Linked DNA regions of Homo sapiens: region 2 is linked to region 1. The links come from fine-mapping of genetic effects on gene expression. A gene starts in region 1. The other region holds a variant in brackets. All regions are shown on one strand. Distances are between the middles of the regions. Region 1 holds the start of LRRC8B (leucine rich repeat containing 8 VRAC subunit B). Region 2 overlaps LRRC8B (leucine rich repeat containing 8 VRAC subunit B).

Evidence for each region.
Region 2: its variant is fine-mapped to the expression of LRRC8B in whole blood (INTERVAL, PIP above 0.99).

The regions. Positions count from the first base shown.
Region 1 is chr1:89,522,359-89,526,750 of GRCh38, reverse strand. LRRC8B (leucine rich repeat containing 8 VRAC subunit B) reads right to left here and starts at 1,922. Exons shown (of 6, transcript NM_001369817.2): 1 at 1,729-1,922. RefSeq lists enhancers at 1-395, 396-897 and a silencer at 1,599-2,058.
Region 2 is chr1:89,554,952-89,559,343 of GRCh38, reverse strand. All of the region lies in intron 1 of LRRC8B (leucine rich repeat containing 8 VRAC subunit B), which reads right to left. Among named protein-coding and RNA genes, the nearest start is that of LRRC8B, 32 kb to the right of the region's middle. The variant C/G (reference allele first, on the strand shown) is at 1,932.

The DNA of each region.
Region 1 (4,392 bases):
GGGGATACTAAGTATAAGGAAAGTGCCATGACCCAAGGGTGCACTCAATGACAACATCACCCCCATTCAAGAGACCTCTTTTTAGCTTACAGAAATATCAGACATGTTAGGGCTTATATTCTAAAATTACACAGGCCCAATTACCTTGGGGGTTGGCTGTCACTTTATATTCTCTGAGTAGAGCTGCTGACAAGGAAAGCCAGGAGAAAAAGAAAGTCACCTCGGCACCCACAATTCAGAGAGCATTTGGGGTCACACCTGTAATCCCAGCACTTTGGGAGGCCGAGGTGGGTGGGTCACTTGAGGTCAGGAGTTTCAGACCAGCCTGGCCAACATGGTGAAACCCCGCCACCACTAAAAATATAAAAATTAGCTGGGCGTGGTGGCGGGCCCCTGTAGTCCCCGCTACTCGGGAGGCTGAGGCAGGAGAATCACTTGAACCCAGGAGGTGGAGGTTGCAGTGAGCCGAGATCGCACTACTGCACTCCAGCCTGGGCGACAGAGTGAGACTCCGTCTCAAAACAAAACAAAGAAACAAAACAAAGAGCATTTGGGGTTCTCAGGAGGTGTAGCCTGTACACATAGAGGGTACTGGAATTGTTTAAAAAATTACACTGCAGTTTGACTTCTTTTCCATCCTCACTCCTACACCTAGGTTTAGGGGACAGAACCATCTGATAAAGATAAATCTGTTTTAAGATTTCTGGGGTGTTCTGCAAAGACTACTATATCATTTGCAAATAGGTTGTCTTTTAATAAAAATCATGCTACGTAATGTCTTCTTAATATACGCTGAACAAATTGCCTGTTTTAATTTGGCTATATATCTACAATTTAAAATGTTCATACTGTTATCTTTTACCAGTGGAGTGTTTTTTTGTTTGTTTGTTTGAAGTCTTTAGGCGAAGTGAATTTATTCAAGGAAGTTCACATGTCGGTTTTGTTCTTTTAGAGGGGTGTCTTTTTGACCACAAAGAAAAAAAAAGTTTTCCACAAATGTCATCTAACTAAAGGCAATCTATGGACTTTAGGAAGTCAGTTGAGCACACAGATTAATGAGCCAATACTGAGCCTCCTCCCTTCTGACCTCTCAGCACCTGCTCAACTAAGCTCAGGGGAAACTCTTGAGTCTTCTTCTTAAATTGGTAACGCTTGCCCTTTCTTTCTCAAACAAATCAACGCCCAACACCACCACCAAATTATAGGCAACCAACGCGTATCCAACAGCATAAAATAGTTCCCAAGAGCATAAAATAGTTCCCAACAGCGCCAGCGCAGGGGGCAAAACAGAGCGACCAAATGGGGGCACCCTCAGGGGAGTTGCGCTCATCTGGAGCGAGACGCCAGCCTGGGAAAGCGGAACCCCTTTCCCGCCCCGCCCCGAGGACTCACGCTCAGGTGCAACGCCGAGACTCCCGGGGGAAAGAGAGGTGACCGTCTCGGCGCGACCGCCCACACCTCTTGCTCCAAATGACCCCAGCACACAGGAGAGGTCCTCTCAGCGTGGGACTCCGTCTCTCCCGAAGGCAGGGAGCACAACGAAGCGGCCACTCGTCTCTGCAGCCGCGCTACCGGCCCGCAGCCTGGCTCGCAGGTGAGGCGTGAACAGGTAACCGCACCTGTTCGGCCAGCCCCACCTGCTGCGTCCCCGTATCCGGTCCTCCTCCTCCACCACCTCGGTCGGCGCGGCTCGCCCTCCTGGAACCGGGGTGTCACGCTCCGACCTACCTGCGCGACTCCAGCCCCGGACGCCCGCGCTCCCCGCGGCGTGCTCCTGGGCCGCTCCGGGCGGGCAGGCTGCGGCCCCGCGCCCGCACTTTCCCGGCTGCCGGAGGCTGCGGGCTCAGCGGGAAGCCCCGGCGCTGTCCGGCTCGCCGCCTCCGACCGGCTCCATTGTGACGCGACGCGTTCCGCTGGCCAATGGGCGCTCGGCGGCGCGAACCGCTGACTAAGTTCGCGGGTGGAGGAGGAGGGGACGGGGCGGAGGCAGGGCGCGGAGGCGGCTACCACGGTGGTGGCGGTAGCAGTGGCGGAGGAGGAGGAGGAGGAGGAAGAGGAGGAAGAGGCTGCAGTCGCTTCGGTAGCTGCTCCTGCTGTGAATTTTTCAGCTGCCTGGGCCTGAGTGTTTGCCCAGCTCTGGGGCTGCGGGAGCCAGTGACTCACCTATCACTGCTGGAAACAAAGCGCAGCTGCCATCTCCCCGAGCGCGCCATGTGGCCATCGCTGCCCCCTCGCCCAGCCTGGGGTCCGCAGGAGGTAGCGCACAGCCATACGCCCCGCGGAGCAGCTGGAAAGAGCGGGGACTGCTTTCCAGAAGCGGGAGGGAAATGGGCTTCGGCGTGTCCCCCAGGCGCGCCACACCGGTGACTTCGGCACTACACCGCGTGTGTCGGGCCCCAGCCTTCTCACGTGTGCGTCCCTGAGTAACTTGGCATTTATATAACGCGTGTTGGGCCCTGAGGGAAAGGTCGGGTGCAGCACGCGGGAACCTCCTCTTCGAAAAGGAAGTCCCCTTACTTTTCTTTACCCTGCTTAGAAAGATTGCAGGGCCCAGCCTCTGTGAGGGAGGGTTTACAGTTGTACCAACTAAGCGGCTTAAGTTCGATTCTGGCCTTCCAATACCATTGGCTTCTCTCAAATGTCGTTATCCTCAGGATAGGGAGGGGACCACATGGCCGAGGGGCGGTCCCTATACTCATAACCTGCCTTTCACTGCGATTCAACTGCAGAGACACCTCAACTACTGCCCGCTTGCTTCTCTCCCAAGTGGCACTGCATTTGAAGGCCAACAATATTCCTTACGAAACAGAATTAATCCAAACCCACAAATTCTAGGGACATAAATATTTTTATCATCCTCATCCATTTCCCCACTCTCACCCTTACCCCAGTTTTAACTCAGTCTCTGCCCTGGCTATTATCTTGAGCACACTGATTCAATTAGGCAAGATTTATGTCTTTTAGTTGCTATGGTGGTCACATCTCCATTTAAAAAAAGAAAGAAAAAACAAGTTTGTACCGGCATCTCCCAAAGGAATAAAATGAAGACGAACAGACTCAGCATTTGGGGCATCTGAGCAGTTTGTGTAAATGGGAGTATAGCAAATGCCCTATCGAGTTAATATGAGACAAGAGTTGTGTCTCAGACTGTTCAGATGAGGACTACAATTTGAGTCACCCTGAAAGGGAAAAAGAAGGCTGTCTTTGTGTCACTGATCTGTTCTTTTCTTGTTCACTCAGTCCATTCTGGAACTGCAGATATCTTTTTTCTGAGTCTTGAAGGAAAAGCTGAAAGAACATTTCTTCACTTGGTCATTCGATAAATTTTTATTGAGTTTATATGTGTGAGACACTGGGTATGCACAGATCTACAAGTCTAATTTAAATTTAGGTTTGATCCTTACAGGAGTATCTGAAATTCTCTCAGGGACTTTCTGATTAATTATTTTTGGTAGAAGAAAATTCTAAAAGACTCTGTCACTACTTTCACAGCCAGATTTACCCAAGTCTAAAATAGTGATTAAAAATTCCATCATGGATTTTAAGCACCAAAAAAATGACAGGCAGGTCTCAATCGTTTTAGAGGTTTATTTTGCCAAGGTTAAGGACATTCCCCAGGAGAAAGCACAAATACAGGAACATCTGTGATCTGTGCCTTTTGCAAAGAGAGTTTTTGAGGACTTCAGTATTTAAAGGGGAAAGAGCCAGCAGGAGGGGAAGGAGAAAAGAAAGAAAAAAAAGGGAAATGGGAAGGTAGGCAATGAGGGAAGAAGTTACATTCTTGTGAGGCTTTGATTAGTGCCCAGTGAATTCACATTTTGCGTGTGAAGAGTGGGTAGAGGAATACTGATTATGTGTTCCTCTCATGCTCAGTAAATCTACATTTTACATAAGATAAATGTGAAAATAGGGGGAAAGTCAATTATGAATTTGTCTTGGGGTGGGCAGAGGGATGATTTCCAAGTCTTGTCCTTATACCATACATATGAAGATGAGCTGTTATTGTCAGAGTGAGATTCAACAGAACTGTGTTTTAGGGCTCATTTATAGGAGGGATATGCATTCTGAAAGATTTAGGGACCCACAAGGCATTTCACTGTAAGCAATTTGTGAGGGAGGCTATCTGGGGAGATATGTGGCCTTCTATTGTTGCAGCTACCTGGTAACAACAGAAGGCAGGTTTTTAAAATTTTTTTATTTTTTATTTTATTATACTTTAAGTTTTAGGGTACATGTGCACAACGTGCAGGTTAGTTATTTATGTATACATGTGCCATGTTGGTGTGCTGCACCCAGTAACTCGTCATTTAACATTAGATATATCTCCAAATGCTATCTCTTCCCCCTCCCCCCACCCCACAACAGGCCGTGGTGTGCGATGTTCCCTTTCCT
Region 2 (4,392 bases), 33 kb before region 1:
GAAGATAAAAAGGTATTAGGACCATGGAAGGTTCCTAATACTAGCTTATCCCTTAAGCATTGGGGTTCAGTCTTGGGCCTGTAGCTTCTCTACTCACACATATGCTATGCTCGGGTGACATCCTGAGCATTATGCTTAAGGTTTCATCCGCCACCTCTGTGTATATGGTGAGCCCAGCTCCCTAACCCCAAGCTGCAGAATCATCTCCCCAACATCTTCCTGGCTATATACCGAGATGTGTGGAAGCAACTCAAACAGCATGTCCCAAACTGCATCTACCGTTTCCTCCCACACCTAGATATCATACCTGTCCTTCCTTGATCCCCGAATCTCAGGTTGATAGCAACATCAAGGGCTAAGGCATTGACTGCTATGGTTTGGATGTTTGTGTCCTCTTCAGAATTCATGTTGAAGCTTAATCCTCAGTGCAACAATATTAAGAAATGGAGCATTTAGGAGGTGATTAGGCTATGAGGACTCTGCCCTCAATGATGGGATTTAGTGCCTTATAAAAGGGCTTGAAGGGGTAAGTTCTCTCCTTCCGTCCCTGTTGCTTTTCTACTCCTACACCATGTTCAACGTCCAGAAATCAAATCTGTAGTATCTTGATCTTGGACCTTCCAGTCTCCAGAGCTGTGAGGAATACATTTACGTTACTTATAAATTACCCAGTTTTAGGTGTTTTGTTACAGCAGCACAAACAGACTAAGGCAGGCACCTAACCCAGAAACTTTCTCTTCCTCTATTCCCTCAAATCCAATGGTCTCTTAAACTAGCCCCTTCTACAATCTTGCTACCACTGTCTTGGATGGGGCCCATGTCATCTTTGGGCTGGACGACTCTGAAATTGCCTCCTTTCTTGCCCTCCTTAGTCCCATTTCCATACTGCAGTCAGAGAGCTCTTTCTAAAACATGTCACCTCTTGACTTGTTGCTTTGTTATTATAAAGACAAAGTGATGTCTCAGGGAGGGTTGGGGAGGCTTGCCAATGGGAAGTGAGGGGAAAGAGTGGTGATCTCCAGCTTCTCTTGCTTTCTGTTTTATTGGCTCTTGCTGTTTCCTTCCCAGGAGTGCTAAGTTTGACCCCAAAATGCAGGGCAGACTGGATTATGAATTCTGTGATCACAGTGATCACTGATCACTTGACAACAGTGCAAACATGACAACAGGATGCTTCACCCTGTGACTCGCTGTGGGCACTCACTCAGCCTCACAGTTAGCTATGGCCACCTCTTGCTTTATCATGCTGCCTGTCTCATGGATTCCAATCAGTTTGGAACCCTGCTGTGATGGCAAGGGATTTTTTTTTAAGTCTCTGGCTTTATTTCTATCTATACTTCACTGGTGTCTATGCTTACAGATACTAGGCATTTTTACAGAAGTTTTCTTGACTTACTGGTCAGCAGCAGTCACTGCTGTGAGAGTCAACCCTGCACATGTTAGAGTAATTGCTCTACTTGCTGATCTGTTACTGTGTAAATGTTCTAGAGCTGTTTTAGGTAAGTATAAATTTCCTAATTTCAATGTTCCCCAAGCCGTAGCAGGGGAACACACAACATAAAAACACATAAATAAAAATTAGGAAAAACATATAAATAAAAATTAGGAAACTTTTATGTATCTGCTGCTGACTGAGTACAGTCTCATTTTGTTTCTCCGCTCCTCGCACTAGTGAGAGTGAGAAGCAGGGGCTGGTTTTCCATGGCAGCAGTGTGGAAAATGAACACTGGACTGAGTCCCAGGCCTGCCTCCACCATCATCTGCATGGGCTTAAATCACTCACTAAATACAGGCCTCCATCTCCTCAGCTTTAAAATACAGATAATCACACTGGCTCAAGAATTGATATTAGTGGTAAAATAAATATCATGGAAGCACTCTGAAATCATTGCAGTAGCAAACAGATGCAAAAGAGAACTCTTATAAAGAAA[C/G]CTAATTCTTTTACTAGCAAAGTGATTTAAAAAGAGGATGCTTTTGGCCTTGGGATGGTATCTTTGAAAAAAACAACCCAGGAAGTGAGCTTTATTTATGCCACTGTGGTTCCAGGGAAACAAAATAGCAAGTGTTGCAAAGACATTGACATTTCATCATATTTGGGTCCTACTGTGAAGTCAAAAAGAACGCTTCAAAAAAGGCATTGAGGCCCAGGGGTTCAGAAGAACTATGTGGCCCAAACATAGAATGTCACTCATTTGTTTCACTGTGACAAAACAACCATCTCAGTAGAAAATTCTTCTCCAAATCTGCCTTGCAATAATGGAATGATAATGGATCCCTTAATGTCTGTCAACTGGGGATTTGGAAAAAGACAAAAACAGAATGCGCACAATCTCTGGCTCACTGTGCCAATGGAGTGCACACGCCTAACTGCCCAACCCAGAGAAGGCTTTTTAAAAGATTCCAGTCAGCCAACACTGCTTATCTGTTCCAGCTCCTATTTTCCATGGAGGAAGGTGTGGGGAATGAAGCATTGGGCAAGAGCATTCAGAAAGAAACCAGTCTGTTTTGAAAGAGCAAGCTCTTATGTCACTTATGATTCAGGTAAAATGTCCATTTTTACCTTGGTGTTAAATTAATGCTTCATATTTGTAACTTGGTTAATGGCTGCTGGTAGTCAAAATCACTGGTTGCCATTTGCTCCTCAGCTGGAGAGGGAGAATGTCTGGTTTACATTTAGGGTAAATGCAGAGTGAGATGTCTTTTTTTCTGATATCACTCCCTGTAACACCAACTGGGTGTCCTAAAATTCAATCCTATTCTGACATTAACTACTCAGAGTTAGCATCAGACTCCACAGGTTTAAGGGCTCCATTCTACAAGACTGCCTCTGCTTCAAACTCAATCACAAGTCCCAGGAATCCAGGCTGCCTGTACTTCTGTTTGACTTGACTATAAATTTGGGGGTTCCCATAACGCTCTCTTCAAATTTGATAATTTACTAGAGTAACTCATAGAACTCAGGAAAACACTTTACTTACCTTTATTGATTTATTATAAAGGATACAACTCAGGAACAGCCAAATGGAAGAGATGTAAAAGGCAAGGTATTTGAGGGCAGTGGGAGGATGGAGCTTCTCTGCTCTTTCCAACCTCACCACCCTCCCAGCACTTCGATGTGTTCACCAACCTGGAAGCTACCTGAACTCCATTGTTTAGGGGTTTTTATGAAAATTTCATTATGTAGGCATCATTGATTAAATAACATTGGCCGTTAGTGACTGAAAATCTCCAGTCCCTCTCCCCTTTCCAGAAGTTGATGGTGGGCGTAAAAGTTCCAATGCTGGAATCACATGGTTAGATCCTCTGGTGACCAGGCCCCATCCTGAAGCTACCCAGGTGCCTACAGTGAGTTACCACATTAGAACAAACTTAGGTATGGTTAACAGGGGCTCGCTATGAATAACAAAGGACACTCTTATCAGGAATGGGGCTCTGTGATGTGACATGGGGGCAAAGGCCAAATATGACTTTATTACACACATAACATGATGCTGTATAAGAAAAGTCTCACAGGAGAGCGAATTCTTATTCCAACTGGCTGATGCAATTTCAAACAGTGCCAGATAGTTCACTTAAAAGGTCAAGCTTGCTTTCAAGGCCAAAACAAGGCAGTCGTTTAAGTCACTGATGCCCTGAGTCAATGACTAAGAAAGTTATTTCCTAAGGGACACCTCCTTGACATGATGACAGGTCACTTCACAACATGCTCCTGTAGTTCTCTATCCCTTCCATTCATAACATTTATCACAAACCTATAAGTAATTGTTTGATTAAAGGTTTATTTCTCTCTGAGGTCTGGTCTACATGTATCATGCTTATCAATGCACCCCAGGGCTTAGCTTGTAGAAGCTGCTACTAAATATTAATTGAACAGATACAAGAGTTTTAATTAGACCTCCTTGTTTGGAAGCAAAAACTGCAAAAATATCTTACAATCTTCATACCTTCTTACCTTCAATTTACATCCCAAATTCTACATGACATGAAAGGCTTCCTGAATCCTTTAGCAGAGACTAAAGACTCCATTTGAGCCCCATCAGCAGAGAAGACGAATTTAGCTCAGCCATAGCATTCAGAATAAGTTAGGGCAGCTCTGGGCACTCTGAAGTGATAGAGTAAGGTTCTTCTAAAATAACGCACAAATAACTAATATGAATCACATAGAATGCCTACATTCCAAAAAAGGTGACAGGTCATTTCTCCACATTAGGCTGGCTTCGGGCTTCATAACTCAGCAGGATTCTGCAGCTTCACTTGGTCTTAGCAAAGAGGAGAAACATGGGCCCTCTGGAAACAGAGTTTCAATGGTTTTCCAGGAGACAAAAGATATACTCCCCATCTGGAAGTTTGACACATGACTTCTAAATCAGGGTGGGGCTCTGTCATAGCTGA